Linked DNA regions of Homo sapiens: all the other regions are reported to be linked to region 3. Evidence: microRNA targets listed by miRTarBase, many of them from high-throughput screens and not tested one by one. Region 3 holds a microRNA gene; each other region holds the end of a gene's coding sequence.

Region 1 (4,068 bases), not on the chromosome of region 3:
TCTAGCCAGCAGACTCCTGTCTCCATGTGACCCTGAGCAAGTTAATAACCTTCCTGGACCGCAGTTTCCTTCTCTGTACAATGGAGATGAGCACCTATCTCAGAAGGTGGTTATGTGGCTAAGGAAATATGTAGAGCCCCGCACACTGCCTGGGATGTGACAGGGCCTCAGTGAATGGTGACCCTTTTCCCTGCTGGAAGTAGATGAGAAGTGACTTTCCATTTGGTGACAGAGCAGAGGGTGCTGGCAGAGCCAGGGCAAGGGCGTGCAGGGCCAGGCTGCACGGCAGAGACGTTCTGCCCATGGCAGGAAGGAGGCGGCCTGGTGATCTGCCCTTGAACCTGCTCCCACACCCCATCCCCCAGAGTGCCGAAGCTGCAGCCGAGGCCACCAAGAATATGGAAGCTGGAGCCGGAAGAGCCAGTTATATCAGCTCAGCACGGCTGGAGCAGCCAGACCCCGGGGCGGTGGCAGCTGCTGCCATCCTCCGGGCCATCTTGGAGGTCTTGCAGAGCTAGGGTGTGTGACTGCCTCCCTTGGCCTCAGCTCCTCTCACTGCTGTGCTGAGGTGGCCTTTGTCACTTCCTTCTGCCTTCCAACCCTCACCTTCCCCCGGCCTGGCCCCATTGGCCCACCCTCTAAGTTGAGCAGGAAATCCTCCACCAAGCTTCCAGAACTACAGACAGCACCCAGAGTGAGCTGGAGTGGGTCCCCATGCCTCTCCAGCATGCCCTTTCCCTTTGCAGGAGGGTGGAGTCCCTGGGTCATGCCCTCCCCTGCCAGCTCTGGGCTTCAGAGATAAGGCATTTTCCTTGTGCAGCCTTTACCTGGCAATCCTAATTTGGTTTTAAGACTCCCTGTGAAATGCTTTCCGCACCTTAACCCCAGTGAGCGTGAAAAAGAAAGTTAATAAACTATAATACATGGAAGCAAGAAAGACACTGCCTCCTCTGAGGGACCTTTTCCCAAGCATGTAAACAAGGGGGCCCACAGCCCTGGCTGCAGGCATCATGACCCATCTTCTACCAGGCAGATCTTTATTACCTGAGCCCCTAAGGCAGTGTCTCCTCAGCTGGGCTGCTTCCACTGAGACCCCCGACCCATCCCCTTTCCAGTACACACACCTGATGCATGTAAGAATGGTAGAGGGGCTTTTCTTAGCATTGAATTAATAATTCAGTGGCTCCTCGGGAGTCGAATGGGCATTTGGGACACCAGAAGGAAAAGAAATCATCATAGTCTAAGGTTCAGTTGTAGATCAAAAAATGCAGCCAGGCCGGGCACGGTGGCTCACACCTGCAATCCCAGCACTTTGGGAGGCCAAGGCAGGCGGATCCCTTACACTCAGGAGTTCAAGACCAGTCTGGGCAACATGGTAAAACCCTGTCTCTACCAAAAAATACAAAATTAGCCAGGCATAGTAGTGTGTGCCTATAGTCCTAACTTGGGAGGCTGAGTTGGGAGGATGGCTTGGGCCCAGGAGGTCGAGGCTGCGGTGAGCCATAAGCATGCCACTATACTCCAGCCTGGGCAACAAAGCGAGACCCTGTCTCAAAAAAAAAAAAAAAAAAAAAAGAAACTGCAGCCAAGCCAGCCCCTAGGTCTCTTTCTAGAGCGATCACTGATGGCACCAGGGTGAGCAGGGGCACTGTATGCATGTGGAGACAAACAGCACATGCCTGGCACACATGTAGGGTAGGGAGTGGTTAAAGGCACTGGCTGTCGACTCATACACATGATCTGAAATCTGATTCTGCTTTAACCCGGCTACAGGAGCTAAGGCCTATTTTTTAGCCCTTTGGGATCTGTAAAATCAGAATGGTACCCACCTCATGGGGACATGAAAGGATTCAAATGAATTGATGAAGATGGGCCATAAAGCCCAGCACAGTCCAAGTGCTCACTCACTGAGAGTTACGGTTATCACAGGGGTTGGGCCCCCAGCCCCTCCCAGGTCATCTGCTCTACCACTAGCTGGTAGGAAAGAGCCTCCTGCCCTCCCAACCCCCGTCACCTACTTGGCCCAAATTTGGCTGCAGGCTCCCCGAGTGCCTGGGCTTCTCTACCCAGGGTCCTGTCTGTCGGCTGCACCATACGTCCCTGACCACAAGGCATCCACGTGCACAGGAGTATGCGCCCAGCAGCTGGGAAGGAGGCTGACCTCAGACGGTGGCCTGTGGATCCCAGCTCTGTCATTTCCTGGCTGGGTGACCTCAACCTAGTCACCCTTTTTGAGTCTTGTTTTCTCAGATTATGAAATAGGAAAAATTTCCTTCCTCGTGAGATAAGCACGTGCCATTAGCTATTAAGGACACGCACATAAATGAGCTGCATGTGAATCCACACATGCCATTCCATGAAGACAGAGGATCATGTGGATCTTTGGTGCCTTCCGGTTGGCCCCTCCCTAGGTCTGTGAGGGTCAGACCTGTCCTGAGGCTTTTACAAATTGGCCCAGAACTCATTTAACCACAGCATCATTTCATTAGAGGGCTGTTATTAGAGACTGAATGTTTGTGTCCCCCCCAAATTCCTGTGTTGAAAGGCTCACCCCCACTATGGTAGTGTTAGGACGTGGGGCCTTTGGGAGGTGATGGGGTTATGAGGGTGGAGCCCCAGAGAGCTCTCACGCCCTTTCCACCATGTGAGGTTATGGTGAGAAGATGGTCTCTGAGGAAGCTGGCCCTTGCCACACACCACATTTGCCAGCGCCTTCATCTTGGATGTCTATAGCCTCCAGAACTGTGAGAAATAAACACTTGTTGTTTAAGCCACCCAGGCTATTATATTTTTGTTATAGCAGCCTGAACAAAGACAGCTTTGATTCTTAACATATTTAATGAAACTCGAGCTTCATAAACCAGTGAAATGCCTACCCCTATGGAGATGGGGAGCTGGTCATGGGACCCAGGTGCCTGGAGGACATCCCAGTGGCTTTGAAGGCTCCAGCCAGTCAAGACGGTCAATATTAGCCCTTCTGCCAACATCTGGCAATGTGAGGCTGGGGTGGACGTTGGCCTGATGTTGCCAGGAGTAGGATGCTGATGCTGCCAGAGAGTAGGTGGGCTCCAAACCCCAGGCTTCTCACTTGCTTACTAAGCACAGCAGTCTGAAGCTTGGGACCTGGCAGTGCGTCTTTGGAGAAGGCAAAAAAGCCACAGCAGCAACACTTAGGAGCAAGACCCTTCCCGCTCTCCACCCTATTTCCTCCCCTGAAGAAGAGCAACAGCTCAAGCTCTAGCATGGCACAGAACGCTAGGTTGGGCCAGGCAAGCAGCCATGGTGGGGCCAGGTGAAGCAATGTGGGTCTCAGCAAGGAACCCCTCTGAAGGTGGCAGTGGCTCCCAGGGCTGCTGCACACTGGACACCACAACTTTGGCATCAGCTGCATGGTGAGCTGCAGAGTGGTCAGAGGGGCTGGGGCCCTGCCAAGAGAGCAAGGCCAGACCTGCCCAGCGGGAGGCAGGAAGGCCCTGATCCAGCAAGGAGAAGTAGAGGAAGTCCACAGCCACCTCTGTTACTCATCGCTACTGGGACATCTGGGGACAGGCTCTGTTCTTGGGAGAGCAGGTCACCAGGATTTGTAGGGCTGCCTGCCGGTGACAGACACGTAAGTCACAGGGAAAGGCCGGGATCCAGGCCTCAGCTGTAGCAGCAGCTGGAAGAGGTGGAGCCGCACGGTCACAATACATGCAGACACAGAGCAGCAATACGAAACAGAACAGCTCAGAGCGGTCAGCTCCTCAGCAGAAGCTGCGTGGGCCGCCACTCCCCCTTTCTGCAATCACCCCATGATGTCTCCACCCCACCTCACATCCAGATGGGGCTGGATGGCAGAGCAGATGAAGCCTGCTCTGTGGCGGGGCAGCCTAACTGAAATGCACACCTTTATGGGGGAAGTGGACGGACACCTCACCTCCCTCATGTTTCACACCGTGGACTGCACTTGAGTCCCAGCTCTTCACCACATCCCTAGGAGTCTTAAGAGGAAATCAGTCTGATTTCTTCAGACAGGAGCAGCAAGAGCGGCCAGAGCGAGGAGGACCTCGTGTGAATGGAGGACCTGAG
Region 2 (4,060 bases), not on the chromosome of region 3:
TTCACACGGGTGAGAAACCCTATAAATGTAAAGAATGTGGGAAAGCCTTCAGTGTTAATTCAGAACTTACTCGACATCACAGAATTCATACTGGTGAAAAACCCTATCAATGTAAAGAATGTGGAAAAGCCTTTATTCGTAGTGATCAACTTACTTTACATCAGAGAAATCATATTAGTGAGGAAGTCCTATGCATAATGTAAAGAGAATACGATGGCCTTTAGAAAATGCCCTTTAGCAGAGAATTTGTAATTTAAGAAATTTTCTGTTTGTTACGGAACATGTGGGAATCCCTTTTACTTCATGCTCACAATTTATCAGAAATTATTTCGTATGTTAAAGAGTCGAAAGACTATAGCATCACTCAGTCCCTGTTAGACTTTAGAAGATTGATACTGATGCACTGCATCCCAAACCATCAAGGGCCTTTTCCCCTACAAACTGTTGTTGAACAGTGCTTCTCTAAAATGCAATAATAATGGGCCAGGTGAAGTGGCTCACACCTGTAATCCCAGCACTGTGGAAAGACAGGAGTTCGAAACCAGCCTGGGCAACATAGTGAGACCCTGCCTCATGGCTTTAGTGAGCCATGATTGTGCCACTGCACTCCAGCTTGGTGACAGAGTGAGATCCTGTCTCTAAATAAATAAATAAAATGCGGGCCAGGCACAGTGGCTCACACCTGTAATCCCAGCACTATGGGAGGCCCAGGTGAGCAGATCACCTGAGGTCAGGAGTTCAAGACCAGCCTGGCCAACATGGTGAAACCCCTTCTCTACTAAAATACACAAATTAGCTAGGCATTGTGGGGGGTGCCTGTAATCCCAGCTACTCAGGAGGCTGAGGCAGGAAAATTGCATGAACCTAAGTGGCAGAGGTTGCAGTGAGCTGAGATCGCACCACTGCACTCTAGCTTGGGCAACAGAGCAAGACTCTGTCTCTTAAATAAATAAATAAATAGATTACCAGAAAAATGAAAAGAAAAAAACAGACATACAAAATAAAAGCCCCAGTTTTTTATTATGGTATTTAACTGAGTTAACTCTGTCAGATTGCTGCAAACATTTCTAAATACTTGCTCTTGGTATCTATAACTTTTGCAGAGACCAGAAGCAAACAATTTGTGGGCCAGTGTCAACACATGGACCACACTTTATATAGCACTGTAACGGAAAATGATTCTGTTAATGTAATGAACATGGGAAAGACCAGCCTTGGCCTATCTTTATGATATATATAAATAATATAATTCTCATAATTCCACCTCTGCCTATGTGGTGTTTGGCAAAACATGCCCCTGTGCCTTGGTTTTTAAAATGGTAATAACAGTACCACCTAATAGTATTTTTGTGAGGATGAAATGCTAATAAAAGATAAAACCTTTAAAAGAGTATTTGGCACACAGCATTTTATCAATAAATATTGCTTTATTTTTTTCATTGGGGATACATTTAGTACATTCATGTGAGAGGAAGGCCCTGTGGGTGTAAGAAATTTGTAAAAACTGTCCATTACCTTTCACTCCTTATTTAGATTGGAATAATTAACTGGAGATAATATCCAGTAAAATAGATTAAACTTCCATTTATAAAGTCAGAACCTATCTCTGAAAATTAATGTGAGAAAGAAATCTCTAGATTTGATGGGTGTGAAGATTATGAGAGTAAAGTTTTGAAGACTCAGGGATAGCTGTAATGCTTTTTTCTTTTTATAACCCAAAAAGCAGGTATGTCAGTCGCTTTTTCTGCCCACAATGATAAATTAAAAACAGCCACTATCCATTTGGAAAACTTAAAAGAATAATGAACAGTTATGTTCTATCTAGATTCAGCAATTGTTAATATGTTGTCACATTTGGTTTGCTTATACATAATATTTACATATTTTGCTGTAGTATTTGAGTATAAATTGCAGATACTATAACACATCACATCTAAGAATAAAGGCTGCCTCCTACTTAATTGCTATATAACAATTGTCCAACCTGTCTGTGCCCCAGGGCAGCTTTGAATGCAGTCCAACAGAAATTTGTAAGCTGTCTTAAAACATGAGATTTTTTTTGTGATTTTTTTTAAGCTCATCCGCCATTGTTAGCACATTTTATGTGTAGCCCAAGATAATTCTTCTTCCAGTGTAACCCAGGGAAGCCAAAAGATTTGACCCCCAGTAACTTCACACCTAAGGAGATTAGCAATAATTCCATAATCTGTAATATTCAGTCTGTGTTCATATTCTCAGTTGTGTTCATTCTTTTCATTTGTGTAAACAATGCTTTTCATAGGTTATTTTTAAATTCAGGAACCAAATTCATGAATTACATTTGTGCATTGTTCGTCTCTTTTAAAGTAAGAATGGCCCTTCCCCCCACAACTTTATTGCAACATTGACTTTTTTTTTTTTTTTTTTTTTTTTTTTTTGAGATGGAGTCTCTGTCGCCCAGGCTGGAGTGCAGTGGTGCGATCTTGGCTCACTGCAAGCTCCGCCTCCCGGGTTCAGGCAATTCTGCCTCAGCCTCCCCAGTAGCTGGGACTACAGGCGCCTTCAACCATGCCCGGCTAATTTTTTGTATTTTTAGTAGAGACGGGGTTTCACCATGTTAGCCAGGACGGTCTCGATCTCCTGACCTGGTGATCTGCCCGCCTCAGCCTCCCAAAGTGCTGGGATTACAGGCATGAGCCACCGCACCCGGCCTTCCCAAAGTATTTTTAAATGTGCTTTTTTATCCCCAGTATTTCCCATTAACTGGAATTTGGGATTAGAGACCCAATTAGGGACAGATTAAATATTTTGGCAAGAATACTTAATGGGAGAAATTTTGTATTTCAATTTGTAACCCATTAGGTGGCATACAATGTCATTATACCACTATGGTATCCTTAGTTCATTCACTTGGTGTAGCAGAACATACATTCCAAAGATGGCCACACCAATATATCCCATTCTGCATGTTCATCTTACAATGTGATACCAACACTCCCCAAGAGGTAGAGCTCATGGTCCTTCCTTTTGAATCTGGCCAGGTGGGCCTGTGTTTATGGCAGGAATAACACTGTGATTTCCACGACTAAGTCATAAAAGGCAATACAGCTTCTGCCTGACCCACTTGGGATGAAGCCCAGCCACCATGCTATGAAGATGCCAAGTAATCACATAGAAAAGCTAAGTAAAGCTGTCCTGATTACAGCTGTAATTGAGGTAACAGCCGGGATCCAGCACCAAGTGTATGAGGGTATGAGCCTTCAGATGATTCTAACCCTTAGCCTTCAGGCTATCCTAGCTGGTGCTAAGTGGAGCAGAGAAAAGCTTTCCCCCATGAGCCTGCCCAAATTGCAGATTTACGTTTAAAATATGGCCTGTTTTAAGCCACTAAGTTTTGGAGTAGTTTGCCACACAGCGATAGGTAACTGAAATACTTGCTTCATATGGTAATCACCAGGTTTCTCTGTTGTAGAGCTAAATATTTCTTTTAATTTAGTAAACGATCTGTAGAGTAGTACTTTGGCATTTCGGAAATTTAAAATCTCCAATAATATAATGACACTAGATCAAAAAGAAAATGAAACCATAAAGGACAATTTAGAAATGAATGGTAAGATCAGAATTTGTGAATGTGGCCAAACCTGTGCTCAGTGAAAAATCAGTAACCTGTTAATATATTCAGGAAACAAATATTGAGGGCCAGCACTTTGTTTCTCCTGCTCACCACTCTACTCCCAGTGACTTAATACTGTCTCTTTAACATAGTAATCACTTATAAAACTGTTAAAAGAATGAAGAAGCATTAAACTCAAGAAACTAAGGGAAAAATAAGTCAATATAAGAAAGAAGGGAGGATCATTAAAAGGAGTTAATGAATTTGAAAATAAAATAGACTTATTAAGGCTTTGTGAAAAAATATTAATACTTGATTTTAGTATAGCTAATCAAAGGAAAAAGATAATTACAGCATTGTGAATGAGAATTGGATGTAAGTACAGATGGAGGAGATATTTTTTGTTTTATTGAAAATTTCAAGGAGGAAGTAATATCAAAATTTCACTAGCTCTTTCTACACTGATAT
Region 3 (4,068 bases):
TAGAAGGTTGAAGGACTGACACCGCTGGTTCCAGAACAGGCACAGAAGGCTCCAGCGCAGAAACAACTGGCACAGGAATGGTAACATAGTCTGGCTCAGCCACAACAGGAGGCTCCGGGACAGTCACAACCGAAGGCTCCAGGACAGTTACAGTCGAAGACTCCAGGACAGTCACAGTCGAAGACTCCAGGACGGTCACAGCCGAAGACTCCAGGACAGCCATAGCTGAAGACTCTGGGGCAGCCATGGCTGGCGGCTCCAGAATGCTCTCTGCCAGCACTGGAGTAGTTACTGCTGGAACCAACAAGGATGTAGATACTTCTGAGGCAACATGTCCTGAGGCTCTCATGGAATCAAATGTTTCTGCTGTCTCTGACATAACAGGAGGCTCTGATGCTAACACAGTTGGTTCAGCTGACATGGCGGGAGTTTCAGATACCATACAAGTCACTGGTCTCTCTGGAACAACTTCATGTTCTTCTGCTACTACTGCAGACTCTACAGGTGTTAACGTAATTGAAGATTCTGGCTCTGGTGGTGGTTCTGGAACAGTCACAGCAGCCTCTGATACTAAAACTGAGGGATCTGATGCTGACACTGAATAATCAGTAGGCACTGCTGAAGGCTCCGAAATCTCACTTTGACTCACAGGAGGCTCAGGCTGCGATACAGACTCTTCAGATGGTGATGATGGCACCTCTGTAGGCCAAGTATTTTCAGCTGTTAATGCTGACTGCTCAGTGGGCAATGCTGGACCCTCTGGTGGTTCCTCAGGAGGCAATGGTGGTGTCATTGGTGGCTCCTCAGGTGGCAACGGTGGCATTGTTGGGGGCTCTTCAGGAGGCAAAGGTGGCACCATATATGCCTCTGTATATGTGTCAGTGTAAGAATCGGTGTAAGAATCAGCAGCCATAGACATCATTGAACGATCAGCAGTATAAGATGACATCATAGATCGGTCAGCTGCAGAGTACGATGACATCATAGACCGGTCAGCAGCAGAGTATGACGACATCATAGACCGGTCAGCACCCATGGACATCATAGATCGATCAGCCATTGGGGACATCATGGAGCGTTCATAAGCTGACATCATGGAGCGTTCATAAGCTGACATCATAGAGCGCTCAGCCATAGGGGACATCATAGAGCGCTCGTAGGCTGACATCATAGAGCGCTCGTAGGCTGACATCATAGAGCGTTCAGCCATAGGGGACATCATAGACCGCTCATAAGACATCATAGAGCGTTCGTAAGATGACATCATGGAACGTTCTGCAGCATAGGACATCATCATAGAACGTCTAGATGCTAACATCAGGGGTCTAGGTGCTAACCTATATGGCCTGGGTGCTATTCTATAGGACCTGGGTGCTATCCTGTAGGGTCTAGGTGACATCCTATAGGGATCAGGAGTTAGTCTGTAGGGATCATGGCCTAATCTATAAGGGTCTTGTCCTAACCTGTAAGCATCATGACCTAATCTATAGGGGTCATGGCCCAACCTATAGGGATCCTGAGCTAACCTGTAAGGATCCTGAGCTAACCTATAGGGATCAGGAGATTTTGAACCCAACATAGCAGAATCTTGGGTACTAGACGCTAACATCTGGGCATCCATGGTACCAGACGCTAACATCTGAGCATCCATGGTGCCAGAAGCTAACATTTGAGAGTCCATAGTGCCAGATGCTAACATCTGGGAATCCATTGAGCTAGTTGCTAACATCTGGGAGTCCATGGTGCTGGTTGCTAACATCTGAGAATCCATGGTGCTGGTTGCTAACATCTGGGAGTCCATGGAGCTGGTTGCTAACATCTGGGAGTCCATGGAGCTGGTTGCTAACATCTGGGAGTCCATGGAGCTGGTTGCTAACATCTGGGAGTCCATGGAACTGGTTGCTAACATCTGGGAGTCCATAGTGCTAGTTGCTAACATCTGGGAGTCCATGGAGCTAGTTGCTAACATCTGGGAGTCCATGGAGCTAGTTGCTAACATCTGGGAGTCCATGGTGCTAGACGCTAACATCTGGGAGTCCATGGTGTTGGATGCTAGCATCTGGGAGTCCATGGTGTTGGACGCTAGCATTTGGGAGTCCATGGTGTTGGATGCTAATATATGGGTCTCCATGGTGTTAGAAGCTAATATATGGGATTCTGGGGCCATCAAGGGATCCACTCCTACTGTTACAGAAGTCTCCCCCACTAATGTAGTAGGCAGCTCCTGTGCTACCGTATTATAGGATTCCAGCGCTGTCGTCGAGGGCACCTCCAGGGACTGCGACACGGTCATCGTTGACAGCTCCGATGTTGTCACCACAGACTGAACAGAGATCTCCAGCGCCACAGTTGCCACAGGCTGCCCAGGCAACTCTGGCGCCCCAGGCTGCCCTGGCAACTCCAGCACCCCTGTTGCCAGAGGCTGCCCCAAAAGCTCCAGTGCTCCAGCTGCCCCAGACTGCCCCGAGAACTCCAGTGCCCCAGCTGCCATGAGCGGCCCAGGCAACTCTAGTGCCCCAGTTGCCACAGGCTGCCCCGACAACTCCAGTGCCCTAGTTGCCGAAGGCAGCCCTGGCAACTCTGGCACCCCAGTCACCGAAGGCTGCCCCGGCAACTCCAGCGCTGTCGTTGCCACTGGCTGTCCTGGCAACTCCAGCACCATCGTTGCCTCAGGCTGCCCCAGCAACCCTGTTGCCGTTGTCACCTCAGGATGCCCAGGATGTTCCACCGTTGTCATCCCCACAGGCTGCTCCAACTCTGTCGTCGTCACAGGTTGTTCGGTCAACTCCATTGCTACTGTTACCGCAGGCTGCTCTGGCAACTCTACTGCTGCTGTCACCAAAGGCAGCCCTGGCAACTCCTGTGCCATCACAGGTGGCTCTGGTACCTCCTGTGGTGGCTCCAACCCCATGGATGGTGCTGGAAGCCCTGGCAATTCCTGCGACAACTGTGGCACTGGTGTCACAGAGGGCCCTGGCAACTCAGGCACTGCTGTCGCAGGGGGCCCTGGCAACTCAGGCACTGGGGTAGAAAGGGGCCCTGGCAACTCTGGCACCGGGGTAGCAGAGGGCCCAGGTAACTCCAGCACTGGAGTCACAGGGGGCCCCTGCAACTCCGGCATGGAGGTCGCAGGTGGCCCCGGCAACTCCATCGCTGAGGCCACCGACGACTCCTGCAGCTCCAACGCTGTGGTCTTAGGCAGCTCCGGCAACTCCTGCGGTCTTGTCATGGATGAATCTGCAATCTCCGATGGTACGTCTACAGGCTGCTCTGGCAATCTTAGCGCTTCAATTGCAGATGACTCTGGAAAATCCATTGTTGTTGATGTGCTTGGCTCAGGGTACACCTCAGTAGGTGTCTCTGATGATACCACAAGGGTTTCTGAAGGCTCTAACACTTTTGCTACTGGGGGCTCTACCAACATGATCTTTGATGGCTCTGGAGATGTGCTCTCCACAGATTTCAGCACAGACTTCATCTGATACTCCACTGACATTGTTACAACTGGCTCAGATGACTTCAACACCAGTGTTGTAGTAGGCACTGGTGCTGCTGCAAAGGAATCCAGAATCTTTGTCATGGATGGTTCTGGCATTACTGCCACAGACTGCTCTGACTGCTCTGAGATTACTGATGTAGATACAACTGACAGTTCTGCAGTTTTTGTAGCTGGCTTCAGAGTTTCTAAGATGTGTGGCTCTGATACCTCCATTGATACTACAGGAGGTTCTAGCACAACTGCAGGGGATTCATTGGTCTCAGATGGGCCAAATGCTCTTGTAGGAAGCTCCAGCGCCACAGCTGAAGGTTCAGAATCAAACTTTAAAAAGGAATCAGATTCTAAATCTATGTTCCCATCATCATGAGATTTCGTCTTTGACTCAGATTCTTCTGGCTGTCTTTTATATTTTTTTTCCTTTTCTTTCTTCTTTTTCTTCTTTTTGTTTTTGTGCTTTTTATGCTTCTTTGACTTTTTAGTGGGAATTTCATCAGTAGGATCTGTTTGTACAGATACGCATCTACTTTTTCTGGAGCCCTCTTTCAAGTCTAAAAGTAATAGAAATTAAT
Region 4 (4,062 bases), not on the chromosome of region 3:
TATAATTTATTTATTCATTTATTTTTTTTTAATTTTTGAGATGGAGTCTCACTCTGTCACCCAGGCTGGAGTGCAATGGCATGATCTCAGCTCACTGCAACCTCTGCCTTCCAGGTTCAAGCGATTCTCCTGTCTCAGCCTCCCAAGTAGCTGGGACTACAGGTGCGTGCCACCACACCTGGCTAATTTTTGTATTTTAGTAGAGACGGGGTTTCACTATGTTGGCCAGGCTGGTCTCAAACTCCTGACCTTGTGATCTGCCCGCCTTGGCCTCCCAAAATGCTGGGATTACAGGTGTGAGCCACTGCGTCCAGCAGAATTTCATATAATTTAAAACAAAATTTGTTGCATTGAACTGAATGTTGAATTTTTCTTTGTAAAACATCTCCGTGACTAAATTTTCACTGTGGTCTGCAAATTAATTTATTTGCTTAATAGAAAAATAATTTTCAGCACTGGGCATGGTGGTTCACACCTGTAATCCCAGCACTTTGGAAGGCTGAGCCTGGGAGTTTTAGACCAGCCTGGGCAACACAGCCAGACCATGTATCTACAAACTTTTTTTTTTTTTTTTTTAATTAGCCAGGTGTGATGGCACACATCTATAGTCCCAGCTACTTGGGAGGCTGAGACAGGAGGATCACTGGAGCCCAGGAATTCGAGGCTGCAGTCAGCTATGATTGTAACACTGCACTCCAACCTGGGCAAGAGTGAGACCCTGTCTCTGACCAAAAAACAAACACACAAACAAAATAAAAAACCTAACAAAATTAATTAGAAATGTGATGAGATATTGGATGTCCATTAGTGATAAAGCCGTTGCAACCATTATACTGAATGCTCTTTCAGGAGTTCTGAAAGCAAACAACTGTTAAATAAACAGAAAAATAACACCTTTAAAATGTTTTAGATATGTTGCTTTTATTCAAAAGAATAAAATGCTTGACAAACTCTTTAATCACAAGGTTTGAACCAAACCACCAGTCTTCTACAACAACTCTGTGAGGTAGGTATCTGCATAGCCACAAGGGATCCACATAGTCCTTTCTTCCCTTGTACCTCTCAAACACTGAGAATTGTAGTAGTTGAAACCACTGTTCTAGTGGGCAGTTAGAACAGTTGTTTTCCCCGTCTTGTTCCCCACAGAGCTGCCCAAGTTATTATCTGCTCCTGGGGTTGGACCATCTGTTTTATGACAGTTATGATATTGTTGTTTAAAAAAAATCCAAATTGTTACTTTGATTTATATGATCTAACTCTGAATCACGGAAGTATTACTATGATGTTCAAAACTCTGATTGACTCTACTTGCTTTAAAAACTCTCAGATCCCTTCTGCATTTATCATCAGAGATCGGTAAAGATGACAACAAGCAGGTCTAAAGTTCTGAGATGTTAGCACATACCCTTTTCACAATTTAGGAAGCTTTAAGATCATTTAGTATTTTTTTATGTTACAAAATTTGGTACAATACACCTCTTTCAGGAAAGTCTTAGTAGTAACTCCAAATATTATAATTATTGTAACCAGAATTGTGACACTTGGAGCAGAATGCATGCACACAAAATAAAATCCTGTCAAAAAATGACATCACCATTCCCCCACACCAAATGTGTAATTGGTAGGAAATGCATTTCCAGTCTGGTACATGGCAGTGTGACAAACTCCTACTCACTCGCTTTTCAAGTTGGTGACTGCAGCTGAAATGTTTTTCTGTGATGTATGCCACCCTTTTACCTATTTGATTTGGAAGTGTAGAATTCGGATTCATGTCATCTCCACAGACCTTTCCTCTTAGGAGTGCCTAAGCTGTCTTACTCTGATGGAGGTATAATGTAGCACGAAAGACTTCCAAAGAACCAGTTTCTCTCTTGCTGTTCCTCTTAACAACTTTCACGTCTATCTAAACATTCTATGCAGGAGTCCTACTAAGAAATTTTGGTGTAATGCCACTTTGATCAGTTATTTGTTGTATGACTTCATTCAAAAACACTTTCATCAATAGCATGGGGATTGTATCTATGAAAGGGAAGTTGGTGTCCTGCGTTCCTCACAAAATTATCCAAAGGATAAAATGAAAAGTATGTGAGAAACCTGCTTTAATTATAATGTGCTATGTTTAAGCATTATTGTTTTTCTCTATGACAAGCAACAGCTCTGTCCTAGGTCCAAATTAGAAAAACACATATTGATATTTCATTCAGAATCTCATTAATTGGTAGCTGATCTGATTAGCTAGAGAGAATGTGACAGATTTTCTCCTTATCTCCCAGTCTGCATATAGTGAAGCTCACTAATAAATTAATGGATGATATTAATAGCAGTGATCTCAGATGACAATGCTAACACTGACTCCTGGGCATCCCCTCACATCCTGCTGTCATACATTCACTAATGAGCAACGCCAGCTGAAGTGAGTAAGATCTCCCAGTACCATGTGGTACTGAGTCTTCTCAGATACATTCACTTGTTTGGCTCAAGACATGAATCTGAGCTGTGTGCTGCCATCCTGAGACAGTATTATAAAAATTTCTGACAACAGAAAACTAACAAAATTTGTCCAATCTGTTGCTATAGCTAACCAGTAATTTCTTTTGTCAAATGTAAATACCGTTCCCAGTACCTTCCTATTGGCTTGATGCTCAAAGACACGAAGATTCACCTTCCTCAGAAATGCATCAGGCTACTCTGTGTTTGCAGCATCGCCCAGGTTCCTAAAACAATCTTCCCTTTACAAATTACTTTTATATCTACTACGAAAGGATGAGCTCTTGTTTAAATGTCTAACTGTGAACATCAAGTGTGCTGACTGGAGATAAATGTTTTTCATCTTTTTTTTTTTTTTTTTTGAGAGGGAGTCTCACTCTGTTGCCCAGGCTGGAGTGCAGTGGCGCAATCCACCTCCTGGGTTTACGCCATTCTTCTGCCTCAGCCTCCCGAGTAGCTGGGACTACAGGCGCCTGCCACCACGCCTGGCTAATTTTTTGTATTTTTAGTAGAGACGGGGTTTCACCATGTTAGCCAGGATGGTCCTGATCTCCTGACCTTGTGATCTACCCGCCTCAGCCTCCCAAAGTGCTAGGATTACAGGCGTGAGCCACCCCGCCCGGCCATGTTTTTCATCTTAATTCTTCTATTGATTAAAATGTGTTCTGTAAACTAGAATATGATATCGAAGTATGAAGTTCAAGTTTCTTCTTTCAGTTTCAGCTGATAGCAAATAATTAATTATACCAGAATGAAAAGGCAGAACTGCTCCAAATGCACAAAACTTAGCTAGCACTAAAAGAAATACTGAATTTTCCCCAATAGTATATAATATTTTATTGGAACAAAAATATTTAGATGAGTTTCACAGCTATATATTATCATATAGGTACCTGCTGAGAAGGATAAGATGGATAAACTGACATTTAACAATATTTTACTATACATCTAATTAATCTAAGTAATTCTGGGGAAAAGAAAAATATATAAAAGCATCCCTTTTTATATAATTCCATATTTTTTCCAGACAACATAGAATCAAGATACAACTGTAGATCATTATAATTCTAAACTTAATATTAGAACTTCAAACATGAAAATTCCAGTTATACCTAGGTATTTGTCAAATGATAATCAAATGTTTGTCTTATAGTGGTTTTATATTTGTGAGATAATACTCCATTGCTTCATTGCTTTATACTGCCATGGGTCCTTCTGTTTGATGTTCTACATTAGCTCAGATATCCTAGTAAACTCAGTTTTGTTTTCTTTTTCATCTAGTTAGCCTTTGGGTTATCACTTCTCGATACATAATAGAGATGTAGATAAGCAATAAAAAGATGACAAAGAAATCATCTAGAAAGCCTAGAATTCCAAACAAGGCTTCAGGTACAAAATCTAGAGGTGATATAAGATAGAAAAAAGCTCCCATTAAACAAAGTATTATCCTGATGCGAAACATCCAGAAAAGGCCCCCGACTGAAAACATTTCCCTGAATGCATGCCTCAGTAAAGTGGGTAGATCCATAATTCTCTCCATAATCTGGTAGAGGGAAAAACAAGTATTATGATTCA
Region 5 (4,068 bases), not on the chromosome of region 3:
TGTTCTTTGGAAGAAAGAAGGAAGGGGCTGTACAGAATAATTGGCTTTGTTGCTTCTCCATCTCTGGGCTTGCAGTTTCCTAGACCTTATTTGACACTTCTGTCTTCAGTTTGCTATCCACCATTAGGTGTGTCTTACTACAAGCTCAGAAGTAATGTGGGCATAACATGCTTAACAAATTAGAAAAAGAATCATATTGAATAATTTTAGAACTGGAAGTCACCTTAGATCACACAACCTATTTGCGTTCTCACAGGGGAGGGATGGGAAACTGTGGAGGAAAGGAATCTCCGGATTCACTTCTGTGGGGTGGCTCACATGGCTCCCTGTAGCCTGCAAGGAAATGACAAAGGTGGGGTTTGGGGTCCTGGGCCTGAGCCTGGGGCTTGGGTACTGATTGACAGCTTTACTAATGATTTATTTTTATCTTGGATCAGAGGCTTTTAGATGCTCTCAACTCCAACATCATGGCAAACCCCTGTGTGCTGAGCTTAGATGGAAGGTGTGCTGCAAGTAATATGTTACCAACCATTCCAGTACCTGTGTTTGCAGATGCTGTTCCTTAAAGAATTTCAAACTAAGAAAAGTTGCAAATACAGGAGGTGGAGGCTGCAGTGAGCCAAGATCGCATGACCCTGCACTCCAGCCTAGGGAACAGAGCGAGACTCCGTCTCAAAAAACAAACAAACAAACAAACAAACAGGAATGCTTGTCGAGTAAAGAGACCAAAGTGGTTGTCTGATACATACATTTTATCTGTCATGTGTGTCACAGTGGAAAAAAAGGTTGGGAAATACGGTTTTAAATGGTTGTCTTCGTCCATTTCCTATTGCTTGTAACAGAATACCTAAAACTGGGTAATTTATAAAGAAACAAAATGTATTTCTTATAGTTCTGGAGGCCGAGAAGTCCAAGGTTGAGGGGCTGCATGTGGGAGCGTCTTTTTGCTGGTGGAGACTCTCTATAGAGTCCTGAGGCAGCGCAGGGCGTAACACGGTGAGGGGCCTGAGGGTGCTAGCTCAGGTCTCTGTTCCTCTTCTTATAAAGCCACAAGTCCTACTCCTGTGAAAACCCATTAATCCATGAGGGCAAAGCCCTCATGACCCAATCATCTCTTAAAGACCCCACCTGTCAATACTGCCACATTGGGGAATAAGTTTCTACATGAGGTTTTTTTTGTCTTTTTTTCTTGGTTGGTTTGTTTTTGAAACAGGATGTCACTTGTCACTCCGGCTGGAGTGCAGTGGCATGATCAGAGCTCACTGCAACCTTGACCTCTGGGCTCAAGTAATCCTTTCACCTCAGCTCCTGCATAGCTGGGACTATAGGCATGCACTACCACACCCAGCTAATTTTCTTATTTTTTGTAGAGACGGGGTCTCGTTATGTTGCCCAGCCTGGTCTTGAACTCCCGGGCTCAAGCAATCCTCCTGCCTCAGCCTCCCAAAGTGCTGGGATTACAGGCATGAGCCAACATGCCTGGCCAACCTGAGTTTTGAAGGGGGCAAACATTCAAATCATAGCAATTATGAAACAAACTTACTAAATTTCCATATGATACTAGCTTAATGAATAAGCTCAAGCTCAACGGGAACATAGCAAACCCTTAACATTTAGCAAATATTTGTTACATAAGTGAAGTGCAATTATTAGAGATAGAAATGGAGTTGGGTAAACTCAGGCTAGTAAACCTGAGGAGGAAAAAGAAAGTGAATAATTAAAATGCAGGGTAAGACTGGCTGTGTACAAACACAGAAGAGATCTCTAGGTCCCAGAAGAGACAACACATTAATGAAAAAAGGGAAGGGAAGATGCTGAGGGTCTGTTCTGATTACAACCTTACTCCCTTTATAGATTAACAGTGGGTCCTCAGTTCAAGCATGAGTGACATAAAGTAAGTTGTTAGCACAATTCACCAGCATCTGTTTACTTGTTACTATGCTTCCTTCTTGGGAGGCATTCCAATTACAATGACTCAGTTACCTCCTCCACCTAGGGGGACTGTGAAAAACAAACTTTTAAGCTGAAATATTCAAACTATTTGACATCAGTCTGAAAAGATGCATTGTTCATCCATTCAATAGACATTGATTGCCTACCCTGCAAGGTGCTGCCATGGGTTGCAGGACCCATGATGCTGACCGGCAGATAGGATTCCTACTAGCGAAGCTTGCAGTGTAATAAGGGCCAGAGTTGTGGGGCACAGTGCAGGATACAGGGCAGATGATAGAGCGAGGCTGTCTGAAGCAAGAATGGAACCTTGGGCATTTTAGAGCAGTGAATCAGTCCTTCAGGACCATGTGCTCAGTTTTTGCTTGAAATGTAACCACAAAACACACTTCCCAAAACAGGGAGTTTTGTTTCCTAGTATATTCAGTTCTGCAGTAGGGCAGATAATTTGGCAGGGATTCCAATCCACTACATTCGATACTGCTTTGACCCAGACTAGTTAACTCTAGAGGTTGGGGCTCCATATGTGAAGCAAAGTTGCTGAGCTATTAAAAAATAAGACATATGAGGAAAGGTTAAAATATGAGATTATGAAGCTGATTGAGGGAAATTGCTGGTGATTTAAATAATGGCTTTCAGACCTCCAATGTGTATATGATTGATGCTGGGCTGAGAAACTTTTCTCTGAATTTGAGGCCAAACACAATTGAAACAATGAGGTCTGTCAACAAAAGGTAGAACTGTCATCATTATTAGTCATGTTATGTTGATGCTGCAGTAACAAACATGCAAACAGAACAACGTGTAGTATCAGGGATGGGAGTACATAAGCCTAGAAGCTGAGACTCAAATTTCATTTTTAGTTTCTTTAAAAAATATTTTTGTTTAGAGACAGGGTCTCATTCTGTTGCCCACGCAGGAGAGCAGTGGCGTGATCCTAGCTCACTGCAGCCTCAACCTCCTGGGCTCAAGCAATTCCCCCACCTCGGCCTCCTGAGTAGCTGGGACTGCAGGCGCATGCCACCATGCCCTGCTAATTTTTAAATTTTTTGTAGAGTCAGAGTCTCACTATTTTGCCCAGGAAGGTCTGGAACTCCTGAACTCAAGCTATCCTCCAATCTTGGTCTCCCAAGGTTCTGGGATTACAGGCGTCAGCCACTGCGCCTGGCCTCATTTTTAGTTTTGCAAGTAGTTAGATATTTCCAAGTCTGGATGTCAGGAGAAACAAAAAAAGGTCCCCTGTGGCCACATGCAGAGGAAGGGCTGTAGACACAGACTAACACTCTGTTTCCTGCTCTTTATTTGATTTTATTATTCTTTGAAAAAAACAGATATGAGAATTGCCGATGCACAGGCCAGCCTGTGCTACCATATGTGGGCTTTGAAAAGATTCTGGATTTTCTGTCTGTATGATAATATGTGCTGCTGTATAGAGCAAGGAAAACAGAGGTGGTTTTCCAAGCTCCACAGCCCATCTTTATCACTGCCAGGTAAAGCTCTGTCCCTTAAAAGTTAGATACAACCAACCAAGTGACATTTATTGAGACTCTACTATGTGCCAGACCTGGGCAAGGTACCTTCTCATAAGGTCGAGCTGGATGACTGGCTGGGATAAAGGATACAGCCAAAACGTGGGGGTCCAACAGGAGGTCGTGGGGACCACATGCTCATCCACAGGACCTGATCTAAGCTTGTTCATAGACCTTCTGTGTATTTTCCTTATAGAAAATAAGAGGATTTTGCTTATCATTTCTTTTCCATTGTTGTCAGTTTCAGTTTTTTATATGTCCTAATAACCATATATTTCATTTTCCACCCATCCAGACTCCTTACTCCTCCCCATTTGGTCTGGGGAGAACTCATAAATGTCATTGGTCACAAATCCACTCTCCACGCTCACCAGAGTCACAAACCCACTTTCTGATGGGTTCACAGCCATGTTGTCATAGTCACAAGACATGTCATCGGGAGTGGCTTCTCCCGAACACACTCGGAATGAAATATTCTTCAGGTCTGGCCGGGTCTCAGCTAAGTCAGCTTCGCTTTGTTTTCTTATGACATTGTAGACCTCTAGGTCCGGGCTGTTTCCCTGGTGAGGAGAGGGCCAGATGGTGTGTT
Region 6 (4,068 bases), not on the chromosome of region 3:
TCGATTCCCTTTTAAACCTGTTGTCTATTTTAATCACTCATATGGACTCATTCATAGGTTTTTATTTAAAATCTAAACCAAATAATGAAGTAACTGTTTAAATTGTTAGATTTTGAATATGGTTCAGTTGGATGTAGAATGTAACTATTACTCAGGAAAACGATCTGATTTTTTTTAGCAAGTGATATGCTTTCTTTCTGAGAGCATTTCACAAATGTTTCTACCTAATGAATCATATTTTAAAAATAACACTTGTAATTCTTTTTTCTTTTTAGTTTCCTGCCTGCGATGGTTCACATAATAAACACAATGAATTGACAGGAGATAATGTGGGTCCACTAATACTGAAGAAGAAAGAAGTATAATAATAATAACAATATTTTCTCATTCTTTGTGTATAGAAAATTTTAAAATGGTGGTCTTAATTATTACTACTGGTTGAACAATTATTTCTTCCAATTTATTTTCTTCCTGCACTACTGTTTGTATTTGATCCTTTGTCTATTCAGTCACTTAATTAGAAATTAAATTGTCAAGCCTCTTATTCTGACTTCAAAGAATTAATGTATCTTCCAACAATAAAATCACTTCTGATTTTAATCTAGGAAAACCTAAATTGTGGCTATGGATCCAAAGCTGTTTGTTTCTTTGAATATCAATATTTTCAACAGGATCTTGTATTTAAAATTCCCACCTACATTGTTAAATATGTTATTTTTTCATATCTCTTTTGGTTTTGATAATCTGAAGTGTTTTTTTCTCGTTTTGGCCTTCCAAACTGCATTTGGTTAGGTGAATTAAGAAAAATATTGCCATCAAGAATTACTTGTGTTTTCACAGAGATAGACTCTTTGCTTTATAGAGATTGTTGTGTATTTAATATGAATATCCCAGCTTTAGAAAAGAAGTAAACTGGATACAAAAAGTTCCATTGAGGAACAGTTATTTACAGTATAAAAGATTTGTTTACTTTACAAAAGGCTTGTGTCTGTGTGTGTGTGTGTGTGTGTGTGTGTGTATTTTAAACTGACTCAGTGACAGCTGGGGTGGAATGGCAAGAACACTTACAACCAAACTCATGGGCTGCTGCAATTTGAAGATAATTGGTAATAAACATAAGACATTAATTCATATTAAAATAGTTCAGTGTTCAAAATTGTGTTTATGTGGATATTTTTCTCTTTTTAACACTATAAACCATTAAAATACAGTCATCCCTTGTATACGCTAGGGACTGGTTCCAGGGCCACACATATACCAAAATCTGCCCATACTCAAGTCCCACAGAAAGTCTTGCAGAACCCATATGTAGAAAAGTTGGCCCTCCAGTTGACCCTCCGTACACATGAGTTTCACATCCCATGCACAAATGCTGATCTGTGTGACCTCACCTGCATTTGATTGAAAAAAGTATGCGCGTAATTGTACCCACCCAGTTCAAACCCGTGTGTAAGGGTCAACTGTACAAAAAAGTTTGTGAAATAAACGTACTGGAGAATCTTTAAAATTTTTGTGCTTTTTAATCCTACTATTATGAATCTTTTTAGTTTCATCTTACATTACTACTCTCATAATAGCTATCCTTAGCCAGGTGCCATGGCACAGGCCTGTAGTCCCAACTGCTGGGAAGATTGAGGTGGGAGGATGGCTGCAGTACAAGAGCCCAGGAGTTCAAGGCCAGGCTGGGCAACCTAGTGCTCCGCCTCTGCTGGGCTCTGTAGGGAATCCTTTCTGTTGTAAAAGAGTTACCATTTAACTCCCTTCACTGAGTGCGTTTCTGAGACCTTGCTAGGCACTCTGGAAACTGCTTAGTTGAGAAAAGACAAATACAAAAGCTTTTCTTTAGTCTATTTAAGATACAGTTTATTCAGTTCACTTTGCTTTCTTTTTATAAGAATGTACAAGAGGCAGACAGAGGTAATCCTTCTAGAAATAAAACTAATTGTTATTGGGCACTTGTATGTACCAGACACTACACTAAGCATGGTACTTGGGTTTTTAATTTATTACATGTAATGTCAGTAGGTTCAATTATATGATCGTAACATCTTCATGACCAGCAGCATGTATTTTAGAGTTAGAAATGTAGTCTGGTTTTTGAGAAGTTTTACAAGGTGTATGTCCAAAATTGTTCTTTCCTCACATGTCAGTGGGGGATAAATACAGCATTGCTCTCACTTCTTTGACTCTGGGTGCTTTTTCGGATACATTTTCTTCAACACTGTTAAGGGGCCTCACTGTCAGATTAACCAATTATTTTTCCACAGTTGGTCACCAGACTTTGGAAAAAATCCACCTCACCAAAATTTTGGATATCCTGATCTGTGTTCATGAAATGCTCTTCTTTTTGTAAAATCTATCACTGCATCTCACAGCAACTTGTTTTCACACATGTTCTAGTGGTTCCCATAACTTAGATTTTACAGGAGGCAAATTTACTAAAAATGAGGAGACTAAAATGAATGACCAACTTTGAATTTTGTCAAATAACATTGAAAATGAATTATCTCATAAAAGGTAATTTTAATACCCCAAAAGTAAGATGGTTGTACTCTCAGAATAAAGACTTTTTCCCTGCCACATTTTCAGTTGTTAAAATATGCTAAGAGCTATGCCCATATCTTTTCCCACCTGTGCACATTTTTCAGAAGCGTAGGGTTGGTAGTAAGCTGTTGCTTTAATAACTCCTTTAAATAAGCATTATTAGCAGTTTGCATTACTTCTTGTAAATTTACACAATTTTATCTTGTCCATCTTTAAAAAATAGACATCTAATAACCAAATGTATTTGAATTGATGCAGTGTAAGTAACTTGTAGAACTTGAGGATAAGTGGTAAAAGAAAAAAAAAAGTAACTTGGCTCTTGAAATACATGTCTTCGGTTTCTAGAGCCTTCAAAATACAGCCCTGTTGTTACTGCGTCACATGATTGTTTTGAGGACTGCTTCTGCTTACCTAGGAAACTACTCATGCCTTACTCAGCAAATGAACATCACTATTACATAAACATCAGGTATCCAAAAGTGTTAGCAGGCTTGAGGTATGAATGATTCATTCATATGGGTAATTAAGCAAGTTGAATTATGGAAAGCACCTCACAATTCACACAATTCAGCTTTGAGTTCAATGCCAAATACGATGATTCATTAAGTTGACTTTGTATTTTGTAACCTAATTTGTTAATAAGTAAGTTACAGGAAGCCAATTAAGCCAGCTGCTGATCTATATAGTACTACCTTCCTCATTGTGATTCCATAGTCTTCCAATAGAAATGTGCTGTCAGAATCTGTATAGAGAGTTTGTAAATGCCACTATTTAACAAGGTTCTTAAGAATTTAGGTGGATGTTTTATTTGATACCTACCAAAGAAGCCTAAGTAATTGTATAATACTTAACCCATTTAGAATTCAGTTGTGGCAGCATAACCAATCTGGAGAGACCAGGGGAGATGTTACTAATGCTTGTACTTTATTCAGAAATGAGTGCCTCATTGGCTTGGTGCAGTGACGACACACCTGTAATCTCAGCACTTTGGGAGGCTGAGGTGGGTGGAGTACTTGATCTCAGGAGTACCATACCAGCTTGGGCAACGTGGTGAGATCTCATCTCTACAGAAAAATGCAAAAATTAGCCGGGCACAGTGGCGCACCAGTAGTCCCAGTTACTCGGGAGGCTGAGGCACAAGAATCTCTTGAGTTGAGGAGGCCAAGGTTGCAGTGAGCCAAGATTGTGCCACTGCACTCCAGCCTGGGCAACAGAAGTGAAACCCTATCTTAAAAAAAAAAAAAGTCTTTTTTTTTTTTCATCTAATCAAATTTATTGTGGCAGAAATCAGTACGAAGTTCGTAGGACAGGAGGAAACCAATATAAATATCTCAGCATTGTAGGAAATTTAACCCATGGAAAGCAGGGGTGAATTAAAGACCACTTTGAAGGCTGGGAAAAGCAGATAATTTAGATATAGTCAAAGTATGAAATCATTGATAGATCCAGAACAAGGAAATGATGTATGTGTTTACATATTACATCTACTTTATTAACAATTTTCCCTCTGTTAAACTAATATCG
Region 7 (4,068 bases), not on the chromosome of region 3:
AGTGGTCAGAATATCAACCCTGACTGCTTATTCTAAAAGCCTAGCATCCAAGAAAGGCTTGATAATCTAGAAACAAAAATTGTACTTGTCAAAATTCATTATCCTGTATATACCTCAAATGTCTGCATTTTATTGCTTTTAAATTATACTTTAATTTTTAAAAAACATGAAAAAAAGATTGGAAAATGAGAAAGGAATAAAGGTACGTTATCAGATCCTGTGGCTAAAGGAAACTAAATAAATTTTATCTATTAACAGGATCAAAAGCAAAAAACAATAAGCAAAGGTTTAACAAAAAAGCTTCTGAGCTGCCTAAACACACAATTCCCTTGGATTATGAAAGGGACTTCAGTAAGTGATGACACCCTCTATTCGATTAAAAAATTGTAGTTCAGGCGGCTAAAGTGGGAGGATTGCTTGAGCCCAGGAGTTTGAGACCAGCCTAAGCCTAAGCGACAGAGTGAGGCTCTTTTTTTTTTTTTTTTTCCAGACAGGGTCTTGCCCTGTTGCCTAGGCTGTTGTGCAGTGGTGCACACACAGCTCACTGCAGCCTCAACCTCCTGGGCTCAATTGATCTTCCTGCCTCAGCCTCCTGAATAGCTGTGACTACAGGTACATACCACCCTGCCTGGCTAATTTTTTTTTTTTCAGAAACTGTCTAACTCTGTCACCCAGGCTGGAGTACACTGGCACAATCAACCCTCACTGCAGCCTCGACCTCCAAGCTCAGGTGATCCTCCCACCTCAGCCTCCTGAGTAGCTAGGACTACAGGCACGTGCCACTGTGCATGTCTAATTTTTTTTTTTTTTTTGTAGAGGTGAGTTTTTGCCATGTTGCCCAGGCTGGTCTCAAACTCCTTGGCTCAAGCAATCTGCCCACCTTGGCCTTCCAAAGTGCTGGGATTATAGGCGTGAGCCACCCTGCCTGGCCTACCCAGCTAATTTTTCAATTTTTTTGTAGAGATGGGGGTCTCACCATGTTGCCCTGGCTGATTAGACCCCATATTAAACAACAACCCACAACCACAACAAAACTGTAGAGAATTCTTGGGGGTGATGAGCAAGGTTTGATTTTTTTCCCTTCCATTATTTTCATGGTCTATAATTTAAGAATAGTTTGACTTTTTCATCAATATGAAAGTCGTGCATACTCATCCTAGCAAATCAAGACTCTGGCTCTTGGGATTTAGGCATTTCATGGTGTGGGGAGGATTAGATACATTTATTAAAAACCCAGGCTGAAAAACAAATGTCTTGTCCATCTGGAGATCTTATATTTATTTGAAAACCAAGTTCTGTGAAAGAGCACACTCAACAGTCATATATCTTCTCTTCAACCAAAGACTTGGAGACAGGGTTCTTCAGGTCAGTGCAGAGGCAACGATACATGCATTGAATAGCAGGTCTCGGCATGAATTTCCTCATAAGCATTCCCAATATGAGCCTGGACAATCTTCTTCAGATAAGCAAGTGAGATCCTGGGAAAGGGAAGAAAGAACAGTAGTAGCTAGGGTCATTCTTAATTTCAAGACATTCTTTTTTTTCCTCTTTACTATTAACTGTTGAAATCTAAAACTAGGCCCCAACCCTGCCTCTGCAGTCCTAATATACCAGTTTGTGCCACGACAGATTATAGTTTCCAAACTCCTAATGGACTGAATATTTTACCCCTTTGAAAACTAACAAGATTCCAGTTTCCAGCTATAAACCTCTAAGTCATTTTGTAATTAACTGCCTTGAAAGCTGTAATCAAGGGTTTTCCATGAGGTATTGCCAAAGGCTTGATGGGAGCTAACGTGAGTCACCTCAATTCTCAGACAGACTGAGTGATCATGATAGCCTACGCTGTACTGTGCAAGTTGGGTAAAGCTTAGGAAACTATCAAGGCTGAAAGATAATTTTCAAAAGTAAGTTTAGAAAATAGGAAGGTTAGTATAAATCTGCCTTTCTCTAAGGCCCAAACTAATAGTCTTCCTGAGGTATAAATATATTTTCCTACTAATGGCAGGTTTCTACCTTAATATTTATCTGAGATTTCTGCAAATCTTTCCTAAATTGCTAGTCAGTATCTAACACACAGCATGCTAGATTTGCAACCAGACCTTTAAATATAACAAATGATACTGTCCTTATTTTTTTTAAAGAGTAGAATGAATTGGCCGGGCGTGGTGGCTCACACCTGTAATCCCAGCACTTTGGGAGGCCGAGGTTCGCGGATCAGCTGAGGTCCAGAACTTGAGACCGGCCTGACCAACATGGAGAAACCCTGTCACTACTAAAAATACAAAATCAGCCGGGTGTGGTGGCGCATGCCTGTAATCCCAGCTACTCGAAAGGCTGAGGCAGGAGAATCGCTTGAACCCAGGAGGCGGAGGTTGCGGTGAGCCAAGTTTGCGCCATTGCACTCCAGCCAAGAGCAACAAGAGCGAAACTCCGTCTCAAAAAAAAAAAAAAAAAAAAAAATTGTCTGAAAACGTGTTTGTGCTTGGGTGGAATTAGGAAACCTTGATTATGTCTCACAATGTCTTCAAATATGTGATGAACACTCAAAAGAAAATGGGGAAATGAAGAACGACAATTTCATGAAATTAGATTACTCCAAACTTTCCCATCTAAAGACCCCTTTCAACACTGTTAAGACACTGATATAGTAAATGATCTTTGTCAATGGACACAGCCTTGTGGTTAGTCTAACTGACCTCAAAGTCCCTATAAGCACTATGTCTTATACACAGTAGATATTCAATAGCACCATCATAGAATGAATGAATGTTAAGGCTTCTATGCCAAAAATACTGTCGAAGGAGATGGGGAGAGAGAAAAATCAGTGAGAAGCCTATATTTGTGCTACTCAAAAGTGTCACCTATGGGCCAGTGCCAGTCCACAACTATAACTGATCCACAACAAGAAGCTTACATCAGAATGTAAATCAGCTCTATCACTAAGCAAACTGCAGTTCAGCTGATGTTTTGGGGAAGACTTTCTTGATGAAAGAAGCGTTGAGCAGACAGATTCTGGAGTAAGCTTCCTATCTCCTTATGGACCTATAAAAATAGTTTGCAGACCAGCCACTTTGAATAACGTGAGTAGAGTACGAGTCAAAGAGGAAAGAAAAAGGAATTTGTGGTTATATATGCAGAAAAAGGTTGAAACGGGGAAGTTTTAATACTGTTTAGGTAAATAAGGATTAAACACAAAAGGAAGGAAAAACGTGAGATGATGTCCTTGCAAAAAACATTTGTGAAGTATTGACAAAGAAGTTTCCCTTCATAATTTTGTTGCACACGCACCTCTGGCCCTTAATCATCAATATACTCAAATGGTTCTGGGGGTTCTGGCTCTTGTTCCTCCTCCTCGATTTTTGGGCCATGTGCTGCCACAGGTTCCACCAGCTCCTCAATGTCTTCACTGGTATCCTTCAGAATGATGATGCCTCCAATAGAGAGCTGGAAACACAGGGGCGTGCAGAAGCGTACACTCATATTTCAAGCGTGCTCCACAATCTAGAGTAAATACTTGTTAAATGGTACTTTAAAACTACTTAAATGATTTGGAAGTGAAAAACTGGAGTAGAACTTTACTGGGATAAAGATAACTGTGATCTATACGAAGTATTTGCAAACTTAACCCAGTAGCTCTAGATGGTATAACATGTGATGCTGTTCTACTTGGATGATGCATCCCAATTTAAGAATAGTTATTTCCCAGCCATGGCCTTGACTACCAGCCTCAGTCTCACTGCAGGAAGAATGTTTACTGTCCAAATATAGTATCCTAATTCCTTCCTACTCAAGATATGGTCCTGGGCCAGAAGCATCATTATCATCTGGAGCTTGTTAAAAATGCAGAAAAGCTGGCCCCACCCTAGATCTGCAGAATCTGCATTCTAACAAGATCCCAGTCAATCTGATGCACACTGAAGTTTGAGAAGCAGTCTAATGCACACTGTATGATTTGTGAGATGATAATCATTTTGAACACGAGAGTGTATAAATTAAAAGCCAATTTTTTCTCCAGCAATTTCAGAATGATGGAGAGAATAACACAGATATCCCGGGTTTTTCACT

Evidence for each region. Region 3 holds the annotated microRNA hsa-miR-6501-5p (AGUUGCCAGGGCUGCCUUUGGU, at 2,838-2,859, opposite strand). A microRNA usually pairs through its seed, bases 2 to 8, with sites in the 3' UTR of a target mRNA and lowers its output. Matches are read on the target gene's strand: a 7mer-m8 pairs with bases 2 to 8, a 7mer-A1 pairs with bases 2 to 7 and ends in A, and an 8mer does both.
Region 1: miRTarBase lists TKFC as a target of hsa-miR-6501-5p. Seed matches in the 3' UTR shown: 7mer-A1 at 1,367-1,373 and 7mer-A1 at 1,530-1,536.
Region 2: the mRNA of ZNF546 is a reported target of hsa-miR-6501-5p. Seed matches in the 3' UTR shown: 7mer-A1 at 550-556 and 7mer-A1 at 918-924.
Region 4: the mRNA of RNF170 is a reported target of hsa-miR-6501-5p. Seed matches in the 3' UTR shown: 7mer-A1 at 2,867-2,873.
Region 5: miRTarBase lists LAYN as a target of hsa-miR-6501-5p. Seed matches in the 3' UTR shown: 7mer-A1 at 2,856-2,862.
Region 6: the mRNA of CISD2 is a reported target of hsa-miR-6501-5p. Seed matches in the 3' UTR shown: 7mer-A1 at 3,751-3,757.
Region 7: miRTarBase lists PSMD1 as a target of hsa-miR-6501-5p. The part of its 3' UTR that is shown has no 7-base or 8-base seed match.

The regions. Positions count from the first base shown.
Region 1 is chr11:61,345,986-61,350,053 of GRCh38, forward strand. It overlaps TKFC (triokinase and FMN cyclase), which reads left to right. Exons shown (of 18, transcript NM_015533.4): 18 at 366-3,257. The coding sequence ends at 518. CYB561A3 (cytochrome b561 family member A3) reads right to left here. Exons shown (of 7, transcript NM_153611.6): 7 at 2,820-4,068. Among named protein-coding and RNA genes, the nearest start is that of CYB561A3, 14 kb to the right of the region's middle.
Region 2 is chr19:40,015,579-40,019,638 of GRCh38, forward strand. It overlaps ZNF546 (zinc finger protein 546), which reads left to right. Exons shown (of 7, transcript NM_178544.5): 7 at 1-4,060. The coding sequence ends at 203. Among named protein-coding and RNA genes, the nearest start is that of ZNF546, 21 kb to the left of the region's middle. RefSeq lists an enhancer at 1-209.
Region 3 is chr21:33,549,455-33,553,522 of GRCh38, reverse strand. It overlaps MIR6501 (microRNA 6501), which reads right to left and starts at 2,861; the gene lies at 2,795-2,861. SON (SON DNA and RNA binding protein) reads right to left here. Exons shown (of 12, transcript NM_138927.4): 3 at 1-4,047.
Region 4 is chr8:42,852,399-42,856,460 of GRCh38, forward strand. RNF170 (ring finger protein 170) reads right to left here. Exons shown (of 7, transcript NM_030954.4): 7 at 903-4,030. The coding sequence ends at 3,761. Among named protein-coding and RNA genes, the nearest start is that of THAP1, 11 kb to the left of the region's middle.
Region 5 is chr11:111,560,130-111,564,197 of GRCh38, reverse strand. It overlaps LAYN (layilin), which reads right to left. Exons shown (of 7, transcript NM_178834.5): 7 at 2,453-4,068. The coding sequence ends at 3,740. Among named protein-coding and RNA genes, the nearest start is that of LAYN, 21 kb to the right of the region's middle. RefSeq lists a silencer at 1,900-2,194.
Region 6 is chr4:102,887,066-102,891,133 of GRCh38, forward strand. CISD2 (CDGSH iron sulfur domain 2) reads left to right here. Exons shown (of 3, transcript NM_001008388.5): 3 at 276-4,068. The coding sequence ends at 365. It also overlaps a transcript of SLC9B1 not described here. Among named protein-coding and RNA genes, the nearest start is that of CISD2, 20 kb to the left of the region's middle.
Region 7 is chr2:231,169,945-231,174,012 of GRCh38, reverse strand. PSMD1 (proteasome 26S subunit, non-ATPase 1) reads right to left here. Exons shown (of 25, transcript NM_002807.4): 24 at 3,292-3,447; 25 at 1,186-1,478. The coding sequence ends at 3,301. Among named protein-coding and RNA genes, the nearest start is that of ARMC9, 27 kb to the left of the region's middle.